2 linked regions of the Homo sapiens genome follow. The protein of the gene in region 1 binds, or shares a complex with, the protein of each later gene. Each region holds a gene or a part of one and is shown on either strand. Other genes may lie near its edges. The genes, in order: SYNJ2BP and RPS6KA1. A codon is read from its position in the direction of its gene.

What was found.
Region 2: the proteins of SYNJ2BP (region 1) and RPS6KA1 are in contact, whole or in part, in a crystal structure (PDB 7P74), measured with the Homo sapiens proteins. Residues at the interface, in NP_060843.2 of Homo sapiens: Arg18, Gly22, Leu23, Gly24, Phe25, Asn26, Ile27, Val28, Gln33, Ser45, Arg46, His78 (codon at 6,580), Val82 (codon at 6,568), Phe85 (codon at 6,559), Arg86 (codon at 6,556); in NP_002944.2 of Homo sapiens: Pro731, Ser732, Thr733, Thr734, Leu735.

What each region holds. Positions count from the first base shown.
Region 1 is NC_000014.9:70,369,162-70,381,884, forward strand, and holds part of SYNJ2BP (synaptojanin-2-binding protein), read right to left. Parts: intron 6,611-12,723; coding exon 6,515-6,610; intron 3,971-6,514; coding exon 3,830-3,970; 3' UTR 1-3,829. Other genes in the region: SYNJ2BP-COX16 protein, read right to left, coding at 3,872-3,970, 6,515-6,610. UniProt on the Homo sapiens protein: Regulates endocytosis of activin type 2 receptor kinases through the Ral/RALBP1-dependent pathway and may be involved in suppression of activin-induced signal transduction.
Region 2 is NC_000001.11:26,544,032-26,553,760, reverse strand, and holds part of RPS6KA1 (ribosomal protein S6 kinase alpha-1), read right to left. Parts: intron 7,920-9,729; exon of another isoform or gene 7,861-7,919; coding exon of another isoform or gene 7,726-7,860; intron 6,895-7,725; coding exon 6,778-6,894; intron 6,573-6,777; coding exon 6,491-6,572; intron 2,365-6,490; coding exon 2,284-2,364; intron 2,118-2,283; coding exon 2,038-2,117; intron 371-2,037; coding exon 264-370; intron 1-263. UniProt on the Homo sapiens protein: Serine/threonine-protein kinase that acts downstream of ERK (MAPK1/ERK2 and MAPK3/ERK1) signaling and mediates mitogenic and stress-induced activation of the transcription factors CREB1, ETV1/ER81 and NR4A1/NUR77, regulates translation through RPS6 and EIF4B phosphorylation, and mediates cellular proliferation, survival, and differentiation by modulating mTOR signaling and repressing pro-apoptotic function of BAD and DAPK1.

The sequences.
Region 1 (12,723 bases):
GCTAGAATGAAGTGGAGCAATCACGGCTCACTGCACCTCAGTCTCCTGGGCTCAAGCAATCCTCCCGTGTAGCTGGGCCTACAGGAATGCACCACTAATTTGTTTGACTTTTAGTAAAGACAGGGTTTCACCACATTGTGCAGGCTGGTCTCAAAACTCCTGAGCTCAAGTGACCCACCTGCCTAGGCCTCCTAGAGTGCTGGGATTACAGGCATGAGCCACCATGCCCAGCCTATGAACTTGCTTTTCTAACAAGTTCCCCAGTAACGCTGATGCTTTTGTCAGGACCTTGCTTTGAGAACCACTTCCAGTGAGAGAATATCATTGATGCTGGCATCTGAAGTCCTGAGTTTAAATCCTGATTCTATTATTACCACCTACATAATCCTAGTCAAGTAATTTTTTCTCTCATTTTTAGTCTCTTTGTGACAATACTTAGATCCCAGAGTTATGAGACATGAAATAATGTACCAATCAGAGTTTGGTACAGTCCCTGGCATAGAACACAATAACAAATATTAACTTCCTTTTTCCATTATACATGGCTAGATGGAACAATTAAGTTAAATCGATAACACATAAGTTGAAACTTCACAGGAAAACAAAGTACAGCTAGTTGAAGCAAACAATATCTTATAATTATACATGTAATACAGAATGATAGAGAAATGTTTTAAGTACTTAAAAATACCTTCGTTCAATTTTCAAAACTTTGAACGTAATAATTTAGGTAGTAGGAACATTAGATGCAATCTATAGAAGAAATATTAGACTCAATCTATGAAGAACATGAATTTTTTTACAACCTATAATGGATCCTGATACCTCATCTATAATTTTAGTTTTCTATAGAATCAATAATATAATTAGTGTACCTGCTTAAAACTGTATTACATTGATCTTCAATGCTACTTAATTTCTGAGAAAACCTAAGTTATAAGAGTACATCAGAATCTCTATTATCAACCAAAGCAAAACTTCTACCAACGACAGAATGGATACTTTTTAAACAAATTTACATATACCAACAAGCAAAAAACTAGAGCTTTCATTCCTGCTTGACATTTTTTTCACTTTGTGTGTCTCAAGGCTCTCTCAGGAATCAGTGTCCAAACCATGAGGTGAATCCTGGGAGGTAAGCAAGCTTGCTGTAGAAGCCGCTGTACATGCCTTCAGGAACAGAAAGGGTACCAGAGGCTGTGCCCTCCTAGTGTGGCTGGTTGGAGTGACAACTAGAATGTTGTCCGTGTTTTTCTGTGGAACCTACAATGAGTCCAGTTGTCTAAGTGAGTCTCAAAGGTATTGAATAGTTGATGTCAAAAGGCACTTTATGTCAGGACTGTTTAAAGCAAGTTTCTCCCTATACCAGTAGTGACCCAGAGGCAAGGTCTTACCGGACCTCTTATTTTCAAAAGCCTTCCCTTTCCAATTGAGCCTGATGCCATTATGTGACATCTTTTTTTCCCTGAATTTCTAAAAGAAAATGTGATGATTACCTGCATATCTTCTTTGTTGCTGCATCGTGTTTTGCATGGTACCCCTTTAATATTGTTTTCAATACTTAGCCTGCTGATATACTTTTAACTTCTCACCTGTTTATGAATTCTCTTAACTAGGCTGTGAGGCCCTTAAGGGTCTTCAACTTGTCCCTTTCCTCCACGTAACTTTCTCAAACGCCCCAGTTCTCAGTAACTTTTCTCTTTTGCTGTCTGTAATATAAACATGACCCCTACTTACACTGTCCTACCTATGTGGCCAATAAGAGTGTTGTCTTCGCAGTTGGAACCCAAAAGCCCTATGGGATGGAGGATATGCACTGTACTTCTTTGTAAAAGTGTCTTGACAAAGCTGATGTCCAATCAACATTTAATTACCAGACTGTCCAAGCTAGAAATGAAATACAGTTGATTGCCTGAGTCCTGATAATCTTGCTAACAAAATTATAAAAGGCCTATAGTATGGCCAATATATTTGGCTAATGGAAATGATTTTCTTAAAGCCAGAAAATTCAGCTACCCATAGTGCTTAAAACCAGCCTTAAAAGAACATGAACAGGATGGTTCCCACCTTATCGAGATCACTGGCATTCCATAGTATCCATTCATTCATATCCTCCTCCTAGGCCGCATGAAACACCTACCACATTTCCCTACCTCCTAAAGCAAACAAAACTCTTTTCCTCCCTCTTGCTGCAAAAAGGTTTATTAAAAGCCGTATGTAGTGTATAAAGCCTTTCAAAAATACTAGCAATCCATGCCTTTCTTTTTTTGAGATGGAGTCTTGCTCTGTAGCCCAGGCTGGAGTGCAGTGGCGTGATCTTGGCTCACTGCAACCTCCGTCTCCCAGGTCCTGGTTCAAACAGTTCTCCTGCCTCAGCCTCCTGAGTAGCTGGAATTACAGGAACGCGCCACCATGTCCAGGTAATTTTTGTATTTTCAGTAGACATGGGGTTTCACCATGTTGGCCAGGCTGGTCTTGAACTCCTGACCTTGTGATCTGCCTGCCTCGGCCTCCCAAAGTGCTGAGATGACAGGTGTGAGCCGCTGCACCCGGCCTCATTTTAACTAAATCTGAAGCCAGAGTTGATTTGATGCCCATCCTGCCAGGGAGGCAGTTCCTTCCCTCAGGTTTGTTAGTAGAAACCAAAAAGTAGCCTGAGAGGGTTCAGGTGCCACCTTGGAGGCACTACCTTATCTTTTGTCCTTTTAGAGTTTTCTTGCTGGGGTGTTTGGCTCCAGCACTATAGCCCTTACCACAATCATTCCACCTGGTTCTTCAATAGGACTCTGAGGTATCAAAAAAGTCACTAGGGCAGCCCAGAGATTGGTACGATTTACCTTTACACCTCAAAGTTTTTTAGATGTGAGCAGCGCTGGATTATGGCAATTTACCTTATAATAACTCACCATAGTTGGCTGTTATAAGAATAAATATTGTTCTTCTAAGATTTTTAATTAGTTGCTTCAGTTATTACATTTTTTTCTATTTTTTTTTTAAATAGAGATGAGGTTTTGCTATGTTGCCCAGGCTGGTCTCCTGGACTCAAGCAATCTCCCACTTCAGGCTACCAAAGTGCTGGGATTTACAGGCATGAGCCACCTCTCCCAGTCTCAGTTATTATTTTAATAAATGAGACTGAACGTCCTCTTATAAGGCTCACTCCCTTGTTCCTACTACATTTGCTCTGTTTAAGTATCTCTTTAAATTCTTCAGTTAAGATCATCCCTTTTATCAGAAACCTAGACACCACAAAGTAGCTTTCTCACCTTTAATTCTCCATAGGGATCACTATTATACTATAATATTTGCATACGTATGTGTATATATGTATTTGCTTTTTTAAAAAAGTAAAAATGCTCTTCTCACTCTTTGTCGATATAGGCACCCAGGTACGTAGTTAGAAATTAAATAAAGGCCACAATAATTTCCCAAGGAAGATCATTAAAAAGAAAAATCCTTTCTTCCTCTAATATCACATAGCTGGCCTTTATGGCATGCCAGCTAAGAAAAAAGGTATTGCCTATGGTGACAGGAAGACTCAATCTTTCTCTCTTTGGGTTGTAGCTGAATTTCTATCAAAAGTCCTAGTAAAATATATAACTCCTCATTTGTTCTAAGCCAAGTCTTTTCTTCAGTTTTCCTTCAAACAATACCTTTACTTTCCCATTAGAATATGAAGAATTGGAGACTGTGAACAGCAAGGTTTGGGGTGGGTATCAGTCACTTCAAATCTGGCTATGCAGAGAGAGGGAAAGACATGGCAGAATAGCAGGGGTGGAGGGTGAGTGAAATGTATCTTCATTGGGAGTATTGAAAGAGAGCAAGTTTTTCAAAGTTGTTGCCGGTATCTCATGAAAGCCCAGGCTGCTACCATGGTGAGGGCAAACACTGGCACCAGCACCATAAATATGGGAATACCACTTGGGTCCCCTTCACCTCGATGTCCTATAGGTCCATTCTGCACCTGTAACTGGAAGGGAAAGAAAAATGTTAACTCTAGTGACTAATGTGTGTTTGCAACTGAAACGCCCAGGTTGATACATCACCTGGGTTTGTAGACTCTAGACCACCCAAAACTGTAACCCCCAGCAATACCTAGCAGAAGGAGTCCTCTCTTTGTCCTGAGCTGATGCATCAGTGTCACAGGATCTTTGGAAAGAAAATAGGTCTAATGGGGAGGCATTTAACCTTGCTGACCTAAAGGGACCCGTGAGGGCAAGTCAGGTAATTTCTGTTTCTGTACTGCCTCTACCTTGCTATTTGTGTATCGTATCAGGAAAATGAAGACATGAGATAAAACCTATGATCTTATAGGGAACTTGGATATTACTTGGTGAGGAAGAAGGGGGATCTTTCTGGAAATGTTTACTTAGATAATCAGTCATCAAAATGTAGTAAGAGCAGATGTGGGCAATGTCAACATAGGTGCAATACCAACATACGTCCAATGCCATTACTTGAAAAATGCTTTCCAGATCCCAGAAGGCACCCAACTCCCTCCAAAGATGGGGTTTTGCCCTTCATCTGCTCATTTCTAATACTAGAGAGAGATGAAGGTGAATCTATATGGAACAGATGTAAAAAAGCAAAAAGAAATTATATCCTAGTGCTTATAATTTTCTATTGGCTAAGTGTTTCCTTTTGAGGCTGGATGGTCTTCATTTTAGTGATGGTTTTCAGGGTAGCTCTTCTTAATATCAACTTTTAGTGGCTAACTTGCAATAATTATGGCATCATCGTATTTCAGTTAAACTGCCTCATTACAACTCATAAAACTGACACTTCAATCTGAAAGGCAAGACTGCATGAAATACCATTATACCCTCTATTCCACCTCTATGTTTTTCATTCATTTGCTGATGAGCTGTCCTGAAAGGACATGCTCAATAAGAAGGCATGGTTTTTAGGGCTAGGCCAATTGCCTGAACATAAGGGTCTTTTTTATTAGGAATTATTTATGGATGTTTCCTTAAAAGTGAACACTGGAAATAACTTCTCACATACCTTCCAAAAGAATTGTAATCATATTGAAGTGTGTCCCTATATTTACTTGTTTTTATCTACTGCACAAATGCTCCCATGCTTTAGAAAGAGAAGAGCCAAGGCAGAAGCAACTGATGACCAATATTATCTCTTATTAACCTGTTTTCTAATCCATTACACCCAGATTCTGCTTGCAACTGGTTGTTTTCTCAGGTATCTTTCACGTTCTGCCTTCTCTACTTTTTTAGGAACTCCTCTAAATGTTCTTAAGCTTCTAAATCCTTAGCCACTGAGTGAGGAAGAGTGCACCTATTTAAGAAGTAGCAAATTGATTTAATTTAAAGGCACATGGAACCTGTTTTGTGAATATGCTCAGAAATTCTCAATGCTATAGGAGGAATTATATCTACCCAGGCTTCCCTTTACATCATCATCCAAATTATAAAACACTTGGAAATAAGAAACAGATGCAGGGATAGGTGCTGCCTTGACTGAATTCTGAATTCCATTTCCTTTTTCCTGGAGTTCTCCTATGAACACTAAAGATTTGGTTAAGAGGGTCACCAAGTTGATAAATGAAGGGTTCATGGCAGTGACAGGGAAAAGCATATAGTGGGTACCAGAAAACCCACCATCTTTGTAGTGTTTTATCCAATGGTTTTATAAATAAGTTTTCAGCGGTAGACATATGGTTCCTTCCCTACCAAAAAGTAAAATTGGCTACGTTTTTTTACCATCTTTTTAATTAATTAATTTATTTATTTTCCATTGGTCCATGTCACTCTTAAAATTTTTTATTTATTTTTATTATTATTTTTTTAAGAGATGAGGTCTCTCTATGTTGCCCAGGCTGGTCTTGAACTCCCGGGCTCAAGCAATCATACCACCTTGGCCTCCCAAAGTGCTAAGAGTACAGATGTGAGTCACCACACCTGGCTTTTCTTTAATCATCTGTTTTAATTTGGTTGTCAAGCTTTATCTTTAAGGCATATTATCTTGAAGCAAGGACCTTGGTTATAAGCCATACTGTTGTGAATTTCTCTTTTTTTTCTCTTTTTTTCTTTTTTTTTTTTTTGAGACAGGGTCTCACTCTCTTGCCCAGGCTGGAGTATAGTGGTATGATCTTGGCTCACTGCAACCTCTACCTCCTGGGCTCAAGCAATCCTCCCACCTTAGCATCCCAAGTAGCTGAGACTACAGGTGTGCACCACCGTGCCTGAATTTTTTGTATTTTTAGTAGAGATGAGGTTTTGCTATGTTGGCCAGGCTGGTCTCGAACTCCTGGCCTGAAGTGATCCGCCCACCTTGGCCTCCCAAAGTGTTGGGATTACAGGTGTGAGCCACCGTGCCTGGCCTGAATGTCCTTCAATGATAAGCAGAAGTACCAATGGACCCCTCCCTTTGCCTGAGAAACTCTTCAGGGGAGTGAGGGTAAAACAAAAAGCAACACTGAAGATTACACACATTGGGCTTATTCAGAAGTACAGTGCAAAAGCCTGGTGCCAGGTTTCTGGCTCAAAGTGATACCTACCCTGTGCTGCACTCTCAGAGACACAGCATAGCCTGCATTACGAAAGAGGTCTACAGCATCCTGGTGCAGCAGGTTCTTTAGGTCTTGGCCATTTACCTGTCAAAACACCAAAGAGTAGTAAGAAAGGAAGAAGGCTATTAGAAGTCAACAATTTATTTTCAAATGGCCAAACTTTAAATAACAAACTCCTTCAGAGCAAATTGCAAGGACTAGGAGTATGGGCAAAGTTACTTAGAGCTCAGAACTTAGAACTTTTTTCATTTTCAAAACTATGTTTTCCTAGAACTGAAGTTCCACAGGCCATCTGAAGAGAACCTATGTAAAATAAAAAGTGGTCTCTCCTTCCTCTTAGCTTCTATGCCTGTCTCGTTTTGACACTTGGGAATCTGTTACCGTATTAGCATTTCTTCCATGAGTGTTAACCTGCTTCCTTAAAGATAGCATGGTCTTCCAGGTTACCACCCTAACCTTTATATTCCTAAGCCCTGGCATTGCCAGCTGCAACTGTAGAAATATAACTCTATGAAACTCTCCACCAATTTATTTTGATGTCATATAAATCTATACTAGCCCATTCTATTGGGCTTTTCATAGTGAACAACTTCCTGTGATTCCACGGATACTCCTATCCATTATATCCAAATTAGTAAATTAGTCATTTTTTAATCAAAACTTAGTAAAAACCATATTCCTGTGATGATATAAATCCTTAAAAAAATTTCAGTGTAGGTCACTCCTACCACTTAGAGGTGAGAGATGTGAAGGAATACTTGTATTAATACTTTTTGCAGTTAGGAGTGACATCGGCCACAAGTAATAATCTATCTATCCTATGCTGTATTCAGTGACACAGCACAGCCCACTTAGTGCAAGATTACATATCTTTTATACTTGTCAATGTCATCGTTAACAGTAGCAGCAATAAGAACATCTGATATATTTCTTTTGATAGGTTCTGTACTTTACATACATTATCTCTTTTAATTCTCATGATAACCCTATGAGGTAGACATTATTTTTATCTCGTTTCCACAGATAAAGAAACTTGAAGCTCAGTGAGATTTGTGCTGGAGCTAGGGCTAGGATTTGTAAATAATGAAAGAAAGATCAAAGTGTCCTTGCATTTCACTGTTCCTTCTGCACTGTTATTCTTCCATCTTGACTCACCAACTATCCTCTGCTCAGCTAATGCTCAAGTCACTCCCTTACTCAACTCTCTCATTTTCCTTGTCGCAATCTTCCTTCTCCAAGGCACTCATAATCTTCCCTCTACTCTCTCTCTTGCCAATACAGTTGGTGAATGAATCTACCAACACTTCTGCCCTATAGACAGTCTACCTTTGTAAACCAATAGTTTCCAACTCCATTCCACTTCAGTCACCAATTGACGTAAACTTAGACTTCAATATTAGACATGCTTCAGCTCCAATATCTCAAACTCTTAAAAACCTGACAACAATTTCCACTCTTTTCATACTTTCTATTCATCTACTGAATTTCCTCCTTGTAACCTTTTTAGACTTTACTTGCATCCTTGCCCATCTAGGAGTTCCTGTTGTAATTTCAACAAAGCACTTGGTAAATCATTAGAATCCTTTGTCCCCAAGATCTTCTGCCATCTTTCCAGTCCTGGGCCATATTCTGCAATCCTTTTCTTGCCATCATTAAGTTGAATATTCTGGGAGAAAGGTATATTCTCATTCTCCACCATAGACCCATACTAGCTGACTCCAGCTCATCCTTAAAACCGCTTCTACTCATTTGCTGAACTCCTTAATAAACACGCAGTGATAGCTGTTCCAGACCTTTTTCCACCACCGTCTCCAACCCCATTTCTACCTCTCTCCCTAGCTGATTCCTTTATCTTTTGTGAGAACACTGAGGACTTCTGATAAATGCTTTCTACATTTTCTTTCCTTCTCCCTCAAAGTTTCTTTATATCTTCTCACTACTCCTTTCCCCTAGTCTCTGAATTAGATCTATTTCCTTTTCAAGGTGAAACCATCCACTGATGATCTTGATCATACTTCTTCTAACCTCCTTACAAAACTCACAGACACTCTGTCTTCTTGATTACTTAACTATTATCTTTCTCTGCTCCTTCTCTCAACTAAAATTATACACCTCTATAAAGAAAACAATACAACTATTTCTTGGAACGCATTATCACTCTCCTCCCATCTTCTTTCCTCTTTCTTTGACTGCTAAATTTGTTCTAAGAACTGTTTGCATGCACTACCTCTATTTCTTCAGCATTCATTCTCTATTCCCCTGTAATCTCACAATGTATGAGGTAGAAGGGAAGAACATGTTTTTCTAAAGGTCACCAATAACTTCCAATCACCAAATCCTATAGCCGTTTTTGTCTTCAGACCACCTCCTCCCTTTTGTAATTTTCTCCTATCTTGGCATATGAACACTTAGCATTCTTTGTTCTTAAATTATTCCTTTCCGGATTTCCTCTTCCCTTTCTTTCTCCTTAAGGTGAGTCAAGGTTTTTCAGTATCAATCCTCTATCTTCTTTCTTTCTCTCCCACTGTGAGCTTTAACAGTTTCAACCATAATCTGTAAGATAACTCCCAAATTTGTATCCCTACTTGTACTTCTGGATTTGCCAGTTTCTTGCTGGATGCCTACACCTGTATACTCTGCTAGACCCTAATTCAACATATCCAAAACCTCTTTATTACTTCCCACAAAAATCAGAATACATACCTTGCTTCTTATTGCCACTATCATTCCTTCAAACTTTTTTTTTTTTTTTTTTTTTTGAGACAGAGTCTTGCTCTGTCCCTCAGGCTGTCACAGTGGTGTGATCATGGCTGACTGGAGACTTGAACTCCTGGGATCAAGTGATTCTCCTGCCTCAGCCTCCGAAAGTGCTGGGATTATAGGTGTGAGACATTGTGCCCCAGCCCAGGCTAAAATTTTAATAATAGTTTTAAACTCTCTCTGCTGTCAACTTTCATATACAATAGATTGCCAAACTCCACAGTCTAACACTATGACATCTCTCATACAGTATTTTCTTTCCTATTGCCTATTTTAGGCTGTTGACACTAAAAACAAAACAAAAACTTGGGACCCCAATCCACCATGTCAAGAGAAAAAATTAAGCTGCAAGCTGAGTCATGCAATAAACTGCTTTTCCTTTTGTTCCCAAGCAGATAGCTACAGATAACAGGTTAAATATCTCCACAGGTAATTACTCTATGTTCACCTTATCTTATGTAAAGTCCCAACTTACTAAGCAAAAGAAAATACGTAATTGACTATTCCCTTGCCTGCTCCTTTCCTCTGGCAACATGTGGATTACCATACCTTCCCTCTTTGCTCTTCAGCCTACTTTAAATATTAAAGCCCTCAAAATCATCTTTGGAGAAAGGAACATACCTGTCTCCCAGGCATGTCCTTAACCTTGGCAAAAGAAACTTCAATCAATTTAGAAGACTCTTGGTTTAAAATACTCTTAGTTGAACTACTGTGATCACTTCTCTCTGATTTACTTTTCTCTAGGTTGGAACCGATTCAAATACTAGGTCTCCAGATTAATCTTCCTAAAGTACAATTCTGTTACTACCACTTTACTGCTCAAAAAACAAAAACAAAACTGGGGAGCAAGGAAAGAGTACATACCTCGTTTCTTATGCTGATATGGAAAGTCTTCCAGGAAATGACTCTAACCTATCTTCTCAGGTTAATTTCTATTTCCTTTCCTATATCCTATACTCTAGCTAAGTCACATAACTCACTGACTGGGACATAAAACATATTTTTTACCTTTATACCTGTGCTCAAACTGTATCTACCACCTAAATGCCCTTCCCTTTTAAAAAATTCTATTTATCTTCCAAGATTGATCTTTAAAAAGGATCAGTCCTGCTACCTACAGTGTAGAAATGAATACAGTTTTCTAGTCGAGGGACTTTAATTTCATGTTATGCCTTGGTTTTCTTGTTAGATATGCTGTAGGAAAAGAACTTCAGGATTTCTATAACTATCACAATGAATTCTCAATGACTCAATTTTCTAGTTAACTCCTGACAGAATAGGTGTGAGATTGCTGACTGTCATGGGAATGCTCACTTAAGTAATCTAGCCCATGTGATAGCTCTATTTCTCATTATAAAGAAATAAGTACTTTCTTTAGAGGCAGACAAGTAAGTTAATGATGCAGTCATGTCAATGAATGCCAAATGATGTCACAGCTCAATATCAGAGCCAAGGTTTCATAGTAATATAAATGCAAATGAGATAACTGGGTCACTATATTAAATGGTAGAAATACTGGGCTTAAAATAATCTTTGCCATAGTAGTCAGTAATAATTGCAGAGAATTATTGAACATAACCATGTCTGGAGCTGTCTGTTCATCTTACATGTATTAACTCATTTAGTCTTCACAATAGTTCTGTAAGTTAGGAACCCCTATTTTATAAGTGATAAAACTGAAGTGTAGAAAGGCTATCAATTTATCTGTGAGCAAACAGAATGAAAGCAGCAAAGCCAAGGATTCAAACTCAAGCAGGCTGGCCCAAAAGCCTTCACTTTAAAACACTAATCTATATGAATTTACATGGCAAGCAAGGATTTTATTTCAGCAACATATTACTGCCTATCACATATATGTTGTAAATTAAATTTTTATTGGTTTTGCCATTTAGTTTGTATTTAATGTTACACATTTAAAAAGTGTTAAGAGTTGAGGCCAGGCATGGTGGCTCACACCTGCAATCCCAACAGTTTGGGAGGCCAAGGAGGGCGAATCATGAGGTCAGGAGTTCGAGACCACCCTGACCAACATGGTGAAACCCCGTCTCTACTAAAAATACAAAAATAAGCTGGGCGTGGTGGCGCACACCTGTAGTCCCAGCTACTCGGGAGGCTGAGGCAGAAGAATCACTTGAACACAGGAGGCAGAGGTTGCAGTGAGCCAAGATTGTGCCACTGTACTCCAGCCTGGGCAACAGAGCAAGACTCTGTCTCAAAAAAAAAAAAAAGTTAGAGTTGAATAAAAACAAGGTATTTATATATTAATATTACTATTCATTTGTATATACAGAAGTAGCATTAAAATTAAAAAAGCAATTTAGTTAGGTGCCACTTCATTGACAAGGCCTTTCTAGATAACGTCACTAGATATGACTGATTTACTTCTTTGAATACTCTGTAACTCTGAATACTATGCAACTATATACTTTGAATACTGTGTAACTCTCTTAAAGTCCAAATTGAACTCTGCCTGACACCACTTTGCATTCTATTGTAACTTCAACATGTATCTCAGCTGATCATTATAACTCTACAATACCTAAGAGAACTTTGTACACTTGAGCATAATAAATAGCACATGCTTTCCTGAAGTTTGGCTGCAGAGTGCACCCTGAAAAAGCCATAAATACACAAAGCCTGACTGACATAATCTCAGTACTACATAAAGCTGCAAGGCCTGGATTCTAATAGTAGCTTTACCTGCCAATGATTCAGTGTGTAATCCTGCCCCTCCATCTGAGTCTCCTTCTGCTAACAGGGAAGAAAGACATTGGTACATCAGGCAAAAGAAGATGTTATAAAGGGCATAGGCCAGTTAAGCCAATTATGCCTTTCAACCCTCCTAGTTAAGGCTAAAGGTATTCTAATTTAAGAGACGTTATTCTAATGACTACTTTAAAACCCCAAATAAGAGACCTTTTAGAAATGCAAAGATAATTCTTTCTTAAAGAACCCTTTCGCATCCTTTACCCAAGGTAAACCAGCCCCTAAAACATGTCATGATTACGACTTTCTCCCTTGACAATATCATTTCTACTCCAAAATTGAATTTGCTCTCCAATACTGACATCCTCTAAGCATTTTTAGATTCCAGCTGCTCAGTGACTAACCACCAAGTTCTGTAGATTTCACCCTTAAGTATCTGTGGAATCCACTCTTTTTATTACCATCCTTACTAACATAGACCAGTGGTTCTCAAAGTGTGGTCCCACCACCAGCAGCCTTAGCATCACCTGGGAACCTGTTAAAAATGCAAACGTTTAGGCCTCATCCTAGCTGCACTTTAACACTCCTTCAAAGTGATTCTCAAGTCTGAGTTAGTTCTTACCTAATCTGCCTGAAACAGTCTTTTAACTGGTCTCCACTCCCAGACTACTTCCCCTATTTAATATACCCCTTTCTACATATCCCTTGCATCTACAGATTTCATTAGTACT
Region 2 (9,729 bases), on another chromosome or scaffold:
AAAGGTGGCATCTCAAATGTCACACTAGATTAGCAAAAAAAGACGGGCAACATTACCTGCATGCAAAGTACCTGGCCCTTGGTAATGGTAGCATTAGTGACTGGGCAGCTGGCACTACCACCCACCCCACTCACCCATCCCTCAGATTGCCCAAGAGAGGGAGACGTTTCTGGAGAAAGCCATGCCCACCCACCTCAGGATGGCCCTGTCCTAGAAGAGGCCTCCCCTGGGGAGGCTGGGGTGGGGCTGGAGGCTTCACTCACTTCTCAGGCTTGAGGTCTCTGTAAATGATACCCAGGCTGTGCAGGTGATCCAGGCCCAGAGCCAGCTCAGCCAGGTAAAACTTCACATCCTCCTCCGTGAACATCACCTGCAAAAGACAGGAGGGGCCTTCAGCAGGGACCTCCTCTTCCTTAAGAGCTGGGGCACTGGGCAGTCAGCAGCTTCCTGGTCCTGAAGAGCCACCCTGGGAGGACCCTTGGAAACCCCAGGCCATATAGCCTTCTCATCATACAAAGGATTTGAAGTATGAAATGACTAATACGCAAGCCACTCATTGTGGCACCATTCAGAAATAGAAGGGGTGGGAAACAGGCCTAGGGTCCAAGAGTAGAAGGCTGGAATCAGCCCTCTCCCCTGCATAATGGAGTGCTTTGCAGCCATGAACTGGAACAAGGAGTTTCTCCGTGTTCTGACATGGAGTGAGCTCCAAGATATACTATCTTGAAAAAAGCAAGGTACAGAACAGTGTATACAGAATAGTACTTTTTACATAAGGAAATGGGGGTAGGAATGAACATATATCGGATTTGTTTGCAAAAGAAACATGGGAAAGTTAAACAAGAAACCAATAAAAATGTTTACCTATAGATGGGAATAGAGGGGGCTGGGGTGGGAGGAAGACTTCTTCATGAATATTTTTCTTTTGAATCATGTATATTACCTATTCAAACATTAAAATCACAATTTAAGCCGGGCACGGTGGCTCACACCTATAATCCCAGCCAGCAGTTTGGGAGGCTGAGGCAGGCGGATCACCCGAGGTCAGGAGTTCGAGACCAGCCTGGCCAACATGGAGAAACCCTGTCTCTACCAAAAATACAAAAATTAACCAGGCGTGGTGGCGTGCACCTGTCATCCCAGCTACTCGGGAGGCTGAGGCAGGAGAATTGCTTGAACCCGGGAGGCGGAGGTTGCAGTGAGCTGAGACCCCACCAGTGCACTCCAGCCTGGGTGACAAGAGCAAAACTCCATCTGAAAAAAAAAAAAAAATTACAATTAAAAAAAAAAAAAGCTAGATTCTCTTTAAAGTTTGAATTGTACGAATGGTCCCATTTTCTAGCTCAAATCCTTTTTTTTTTTTTTTTTTTTTTTGAGACAGAGTCTCGCTCTGTTGCCAAGCTGGAGTGCAGTGGCGCGATCTTGGCTCACTGCAACCTCTGCCTCCTGGGTTCAAGCGATTCTTGTGCCTCCGCTTCCTGAGTAGCTGGGATTACAGGCACACTCCACCATACCCAGCTAATTTTTGTATTTTTAGTAGAGACGGGGTTTCACCATGTTGGGCAGGATGGTCTTGATCTCCTGACCTCCTGATCTGCCCACCTCGGCCTCCCAAAGTGCTGGGATAACAGGCGTGAGCCGCTGCGCCCAGCCTCAAATCCTTTTATATTGGTTCAAAATCCTTTTGGATGACATACGCAAGATGACTGCTAAAGTCTCTGGCTCTCTGGGTGACTTTGGGCTTCTCCCCTATCTTCACACCTCTGCCCAGAGCAGCCCTGGAAGAAGGCAGGTGCAGAGGTGAGAGGAACCCTTAGCTCCCTGGAGTTTCCTTGGGAGAAACTCTCAGAGACCTTGCCAGCGTATGGCCTCCATTCCAGGGTGCGTGGTATTTCCTGGGCCAGGGGCTGCTAGGCAGGCCTGGGTGGTTCCAGGTTCAAGCCATACCAAACACATTCTGTACAGGGCCCTGGGATGGGAGGACTTGTCGTCCCTCAGCTCCATCCCGGGGCCCTCTGGCAGTAGATGTCAGCTCACCTCTTTTGAGAGCCGGGTGAAGAGGTCCCCACCACGCAGGAAGTCCAGAATGAGATAGAGCTTGCCCTCGGTCTGGAAGGCTGGGAAGAGGGAGAAAGGCAATGGTAGAGTCGGCGCGGCCTTATGATCTGCTTCTCCGGCCCTGGCTCCCTTGGCCTGCCAGGCAGGCGGTGGGACAGTGTACAGACCACAGGCAAGGGCGAAGGATGGGTGGGGTAGGAGCTCAGGCAGGGCCAGAAGCTTTACCATAGTGCAGCTTCACCACGAATGGGTGATTTACATCAGCCAGGATGTCTCTCTCCATCTTGGTCCGGACGCGGTCACGTACTGGCCAGACGAGAAAGGAAGTCACCAGTAGCCTAGACACTCAACACAGCCACTCCCAAGCCCCCGCTAAGGGATCTCTTTTCCACTTGTTCCTCCAGGCCTGAGCTCCCAAAGCCCCCTCACCCAGGGCTTTGGGGACACTCAATCCTCAGGTTTCCTCCTTGCCAGTCTGTTTCTGGCTCCTTGGCTGGCTCCTTGTCCCCACCCCTCACAGCAGTGCCCACAGCTGGGGCCTTGGCACCCTGCCCATCTCTCTGGTCCCTTTTCCCACCAGACCCCATCAAGACCTGTTAATCAGCCAGTCTGAGCAACCTGCTCCCCCAGGGTTCTCTGCTTTGTCAGATCCTCAGACTTTGCCTCTGCACCTCCCCCTGGCATGCCTTCACCAGCTCTGCTTTCCATCTGGCATAAAAATTCCCAAATTCTGGTCTCGGGGCTGGTAAGAACGGCTACCTGGTGAGCTGGATCCCTGGGCCTAAAATCCCGATCTATGGGTCTGGGTGGGCACCCTTCATATTATTTATTTATTTTTTTAAATAATACAAGTTATTGGGCAGTTCTGATTCTCAGCAGGTTCTTTGACTCAGCTTAGGCCTCACCTTCTCCAGGAAGCGCTCCTTAATTTGCCAAGCTGGGTTAGGGCCTTCTGGATTCCTACAGTGCTTGTGCTTCTCCTTTGGAGCACTTTTCTCTTTTTCAGGTTGCCTTCTAAATTTATTGAAGCCCACCAAGTATCATGTTTTATTGATTTCACTAGTCTGATTAGAACAGGCTTTTGGGCCGGGCACAGTGGCTCATGCCTGTAATCCCAGCACTTTGGGAGGCTGAGGCAGGAGGATCACTTGAGGTCAGGAGTTCGAGACTAGCCTGGCCAACATGGTGAAACCCTGTCTCTATTAAAAATACAAAAATTGGGACCAGGCGTGGTGGCTCACACCTCTAATCCCAGCACTTTGGGAGGCCGAGGCAGGCAGATCATGAGGTCAGGAGATCGAGACCATCCTGGCCAACATGGTGAAACCCTGTCTCTAGTAAAAAATACAAAAAATTAGCCAGCCTGGTGGCACGTGCCTGTAATCCCAGCTACTCAGGAGGCTGAGGCAGGGGAATCGCTTGAACCCAGGAGGCGGAGGTTGCAGTGAGCCGAGATCACGCCACTGCACTCCAGCCTGGTGACAGAGTGAGACTCTGCCTCAAAAAAAAAAAAAAAAAAAAATTGGCCAGGCGTGGTGGCTCATGCCTGTAATACTAGCACTTTGGGAGGCTGAGGAAGGCGGATCACCTGAAGTCAGGAGTTTGAGACCAGCCTGACCAACATGGAGAAACCCTGTCTCTACTAAAAATACAAAATTAGCTAGGCGTGGTGGCGTGGGCCTGTAATCCCAGTTACTCGTGAGGCCGAGGCAGGAGAATCACTTGAACCCGGGAGGCAGAGGTTGTGATGAGCCGAGATTGCACCATTGCACTCCAGTCTGGGCAACGAGAGTGAAACTCCGTCTCAAAAAAGAAAAAAATATATATACAAAAATTAGCCAGGCGTGGTGGCATGTGCCTGTAATCCCAGCTACTCAGGAGGCTGAGGCAGGAGAATTGCCTGAACCTGCGGAGCGGAGGTTGCAGTGAGCCGAGATCACACCACTGCCCTCCAGTCTGAGCGATAGAGTGAGACTCCATCTCGGGAAAGAAAAAAAAAAAAAAAAAAAAAAGAACAGGCTTTTGGACATGGCTGCCTAGGTTCATTTTGGGCAGTGTGTTTCAACTAAGTTTATCACAATATTGATTACCCCTTGACTGAGACCTCTCATGTGTCCTTTGACTTTTTTTTAATGGGACAGGGTCTCACTCTGTCACCCAAGCTGGAGTGCAGTGGTGTGATCTTGGCTCACTGCAACCTTTGCCTCCCAGGTTCAAGCGATTCTAGTGCCTCAGCCTCCTGAGTAGCTGGGATTACAGACACACCAAACCTGGCTCATTTTTTTTGTATTTTTAGTAGAGACAGGGTTTCACCATGTTGGCCAGGCTGGTCTTGAGCTCCTGACCTCAAATGATCCACCCACCTTGGCCTCCCAAAGTGCTGGGATTACAGGCATGAGCCACCGCACCCAGCCTTGACTTTTATTAAAAGGAGAGGTGGAAGGCTAGGGAGTGCTTACTAAGACCAGACAAAATGTCTGAGCAATACACACAATGCAAAACTAAAGGCTTTTTTGGTCCATGTACTGGATTGGCAGTTTCCTCTCCAGCCTCATAGTCCCAAAGCCTTCACTAGTCCATCCATCTAGTATGAATTCTATTCATTCGTCACTGCCATTCCAGAATTGATGCTCACAGCTGCTTATCTTAGGAGATCTGGCCAATGTACTCCTCCTGCATGTCTTTCCGGAGTCTTGTTCAGGACACAATCCTTGGCCCTTGCTACAAGTAGAAGCTGCAGCTGCCTTCCAACACACCTTCTATGTCAGCACACAGGGCTGCAGGAGCTGGTCCCCTTCTTCTGTTTTAATTTTTGTGTTTTCCTCATTAGACATGACAAGGACCACACCGGAGTTAACTATTTTGGTCACCTTACATTTTCTTTTTTCTTTTTTTTTTTTTCTGAGATGGAGTTTCGCTCTCATCGCCCAGGCTGGAGTATGGTGGCGCGATCTCGGCTCACTGCAATCTCCACCTCCTGGGTTCAAGCAATTCTTGTGCCTCAACCTCCTGAGTAGCTGGGACTATAGGTGTGCATACCAGCATACCCAGATAATTTTTGTATTTTAGTAGAGATGGGGTTTTCCCATGTTGGCCAGGCTGGTCTCGAACTCTTGACCTCAAGTGATCCACTCGCCTCAGCTTTCCAAAGTGCTAGGATTACAGGTATGAGCCACAGCACCCAGCTTACCTTACATTTTCAAACCACCTCTACACTTTAGTTCAGGCAAACAGTTTCTCCTTCCCAGGGTCCCCTTCCTCAAACATTTTTGGTCTAGAGAAATCCACTCATCCTCCAAGGCTTCCCGCTCCTTAGGTGTCCCCTTGGCCTCTGGGCCCACCCTCTACAAGACTACACCACCACTCCCAGCTCCCCAGCGCGTCGGATATCCACGCACACCAGTCACAGCACCGGCTGCACCACACTGTCGGGTATGCTTAGCCTCTCCTGCCCAGCCTGTGAGCCCTTCACAGCAGGGACCCAGGCTTTTCATCTTTCTCCTCCCTCTGAAGCTGCCACCATACCTCCTGGGGGATGACTTCCACACCCACCAGGCTGGCCTTAGGATACCAAAGCCACCCATAACGTCCTTAAGGCTGACGCCTCCTACTGCCCCCACTACCTCCCCAGCTAGGATTTGGCTCTGACTGGGATCAGAGGTGCACACCACCACACCCAGCTCATTTCTTTGTATTTTTAGTAGAGACGGGGTTTCAACATGTTGGTCAGGTCTTGAACTCCTGACCTCAAATGACCCGCCCACCTCAGCCTCCCAAAGTGCTGGGATTACAGGTGTGAGCCACCGCGCCCGGCCTTGACTTATTTAAAGAGAGACTTGGCTATGACTCTGCCGGGTCAGTGGTCACACTGGTTCCCAGGCCAAGTGGTCAGTATCCAACCCAAAGCCCACTACCAACCATCTTCACACCCTTTGTAAGTCCCCAGAACTCTAACCTTGGCTCGGGGCTCCCTTCTGAACCTCTCTGCCATCCAGCTCTGTGGCCCTGCCTGGACTCACCCTCTCTTGCCTAGCCCAGCTGCCTCCCTGGGCTCCCTGCCTCTTCACTCACGCCCTTCTCTCAGGCCCCTGAGTTAGGGGCCACAGAGGTCTCCCCCAGACTCTTCTAGCATCAACAGTCAGAATGCCTCTGCTTGACCAGCTTGGTAGTTGAGGGCCCCGCCCCCTGACAAACACATTGCATTTACCCTATTACCACCTTCCAGACCTTCACAGCCAGTCACTAGCACTTGGCTTAGGGGGAGGAGGATTGGCTGGCGAGGGATAGCTGAGAAATAGGCCTGTTTCTCCACCTTTGAACTAGGTGCTCCTGAAGACAGAGCTGTCTCCCTTGCCAGACCCAAGGCCCTTGAAGTCTGGGCTGCCTCCCTCAGCCAAGCCTGGGTTCTGCACAGGGAGGTGTCCCCACTCACCTTTCAGCGTTGCCTTCTTCAGCACCTTCATAGCATACAGGTGCCCACTGTCAGGCCGGGTGACTTTCCGCACCAGGAAGACCTGAGAAGGCAGAGCAGGAAGCAGGGCAGAAGATGGGAGAGGTCTGAGTCCAGGCTGACCTCTATCTTCTCTGAGCCCCAAGCTGACCTTTTTGCTCTCCCTGGGTACCAAGGTGACCTCTGATCCTTTGGGCCCCTAGGTGACCCTTGACCCCCACCTCTAACATGACGAGTGTTGCCTTCACAGCTATGGGCTCATGACTCACTTTGCCAAAGGATCCCTGGCCCAGAACCTTGAGGAGCTCGAAATGGGATGGATCAGCCTTCTCAGAGCCAGCCTTGACGTGGTGCGTGATGGAGATCTCCTTGAGGACGCCCTCATCCTGATGGAGGGACAGAGCTGGTGGGCATGGTGGGCCCCATCCAGGCAGCAGGAGGCTCCCCTGCCCAAGTCCATTCCCACCAGACCACAGCAGATGGAACCTAAAGGCCCAATAGACGACTTCCCTGAAGGGCTAGCCTCCAGGGTCATCGATTTCAAAAGAGCCTCAAAGTCTGGGGAGGTCAAACCAGAACAGGCACCGCTCCTATTGCTCACGATGCTCTGGCCTGGTTAGGCCCAAAGGGATGCCCAGGCATGGCCAGGCTGAGTCAACCCCAGGCTCTGGCTGAGACCCAGAGACCTGCCCCAGGTCCGCCCGTGGGGCTTCCCTCCCCCTGTTGTTTTAGTGTTGCCACAATAGGAAGTAGGCTTGTTCTCATATGGGGAGGTAGAGCTGGGCCTTCGTTCCTGGTCAGGATGGGATGAGGGGATCCCTCTGGTCAGCAGGACAGGGCTGACGTGCACAAAGACCCAAGAGTCACCCAAACTCCCCCATCAACTAGGTAAGTGCTGGCCTGGGGCAGGTCAGAGTTAAGGCCAAAGACTGCATGGCTCAACTTCCCAAACTTCCCTCATACAAACCTACTGGAAGCCCCTTGCCAGGTCCTAGCCTTTCCAGGACTCTACCCTCCCTCCAATCTGCTGCCATTGCCTTGAAGCCCTGAAGTGCCTCCTCACTTCCCCAGGAAGCAAGTCTGGGCAGGGTCCAGTCACCCTGCAGGGCCAGGCCTGGGCCAGGACAGCCCAAAGCCAGCTTATGTTAAGCTGGCTTCCCAGGCACCTGCTGCAAGGGACACAGCCAGGTCAGGACCAGACATTCGGGCACACTCACCGAGTCCCGCTGGGGGCCAGAGCCAGGGCCAGGGACAGGCAGAGAGGTCTGGCTGATCCTGGGCCGCTGCTTCCTGGGAAGCCAGGGGATCAGGGCCCAGAGCCGCAGACGGGGCGGCTTGGGATCCTGCTCCATCCGCCCAGCAGGGCCACGGCACCATGGCAGGAGCAGGCAGAGTCCGGGGCTGCCGCAGTGGTGGCCGGGACCAAGGCGGATGTGCAGGGTAAGGGCGGGGGCTGGGCCTGGCCCAGGGCAGCCAATCACTCAGGGCCTGTGGTTTCCCAGCACCAGGCCTACACCCTCACCACGTTCCCTTCCTCTCTCTCCCCCTCTCCTCAGAGCCTGAGGGCTGCCCTCTGGCCGTTCCCCCATCCTCCCTGTGGGCCTACAAAGGGAAAGTCCCCTGCCAATGCAGCTGCTGAGCAGACTGGTACCCAACAGCAGAGAGGTACCCAATAGCAAACAGGTACCCAACAGACAAAGACAGGTGCCTGATATGTGGAGGCAGACGAAGAGAGACACCCAACAGGCAGAAGCAGGCACCCAACAGGTGGAAACAGGTAAGAATGGCATCCATCATGCCTGTAATCCCAGCACTTTGGGAGGCTGAGGCGGGCGGATCATGAGGTCAGGAGATCGAGACGATCCTGGTTAACATGATGAAACCCTGTCTCTACTAAAAATACAAAAAAAAAAAAAATTGGCCAGGCGTGGTGGTCAGCTCCTGTAGTCCCAGCTATTCGGGAGCTGAGGCAGGAGAATGGCATGAACCTGGAAGGCGGAGCTTGCAGTGAGCCGAGATAGCGCCACTGCACTCCAGCCTGGGTGGCAGAGCAAGACTCCATCTCAAAAAAAAAGAAAAAGAAAAAGAAAGAATGGCATCCAACAGGCAGGGGCAGGAGAGAACACATACCCAACAGGCAGGGATGGAGGATAAGGACACGCACCCAACAGGCAGAGGCAGGAGGAATTCATATCCAATAGAAAACAGATGGAGACACGTACCTGACAAGGGGAAGCAGGAGGGGACTCATATCTAACAGACAGAGGTGGACAGAGACTCATCCCCAATGTGTGTAGGCAGATAGGGACACAAGCCCAACAGCCAGAGACAGATGGGGACATATACCCAATAGGTAAAGACAGATGGGGACATGTACCCAACAGGCAAAGGCAGGAGGAACACATCTCCAATAGGCAGAGACAGAAGAGAATACCAACCCAACAGGCAATGACAGAAGGGGACATAAACCCAACAGGCAGGCTGGGCGTGGTGGCTCACGCCTGTAATCCCAGCACTTTGGGAGGCCGAGGCAGGTGGATCACGAGGTTAGGAGATCGAGACCATCCTGGCTAACACGGTGAAACCCCGTCTCTACTAAAAATACAAAAAATTAGCTGGGCGTGGTGGTGGGCACCTGTAATCCCAGATACTTGGGAAGCTGAGGCAGGAGAATGGCTTGAACCTGGGAGGGGGAGGCTGCAGTGAGCCAAGATCGCACCACCGCACTCCAGCCTGGGCGACAAAGTGAGACTCCGTTTCAAAAAAAAAACCAACAGGCAATGACAGAAGGGGACATGTATCCAAAAGGCAGAGACAGATGGTGACACAAACCCAACAGGCAAAGACAGAAGGGGACAGGTATCCAACAGGCAGAGACAGATGAAGACATAAACCCAACAGGCAGAGACAGAAGGGGACATGAACAACAGGCACCTAACATGTGACATGTACCCAAAAGGTGAAGTCAGGCACTTATCAAGTGGAGACAGAGATTGGAACCCAACCACAGACAGAGGTAGGCAGCAAAGAGAGACAGCGGGAGAGTCAGCGAGCCCCAAGCAGACTGACAATACCTAGGGCAGATAGGTCTGACACCTGGCAGACACACGGGCAGGCAGCAGGGCAGGGATCCCCAGGAAGGGGTTAAGGGCAGAGCTGTGGGTTCTTGCTGCTGTACCTGGGGTGGGGAAAGAGATGAGGGGAGACAATCTGCAAACTCC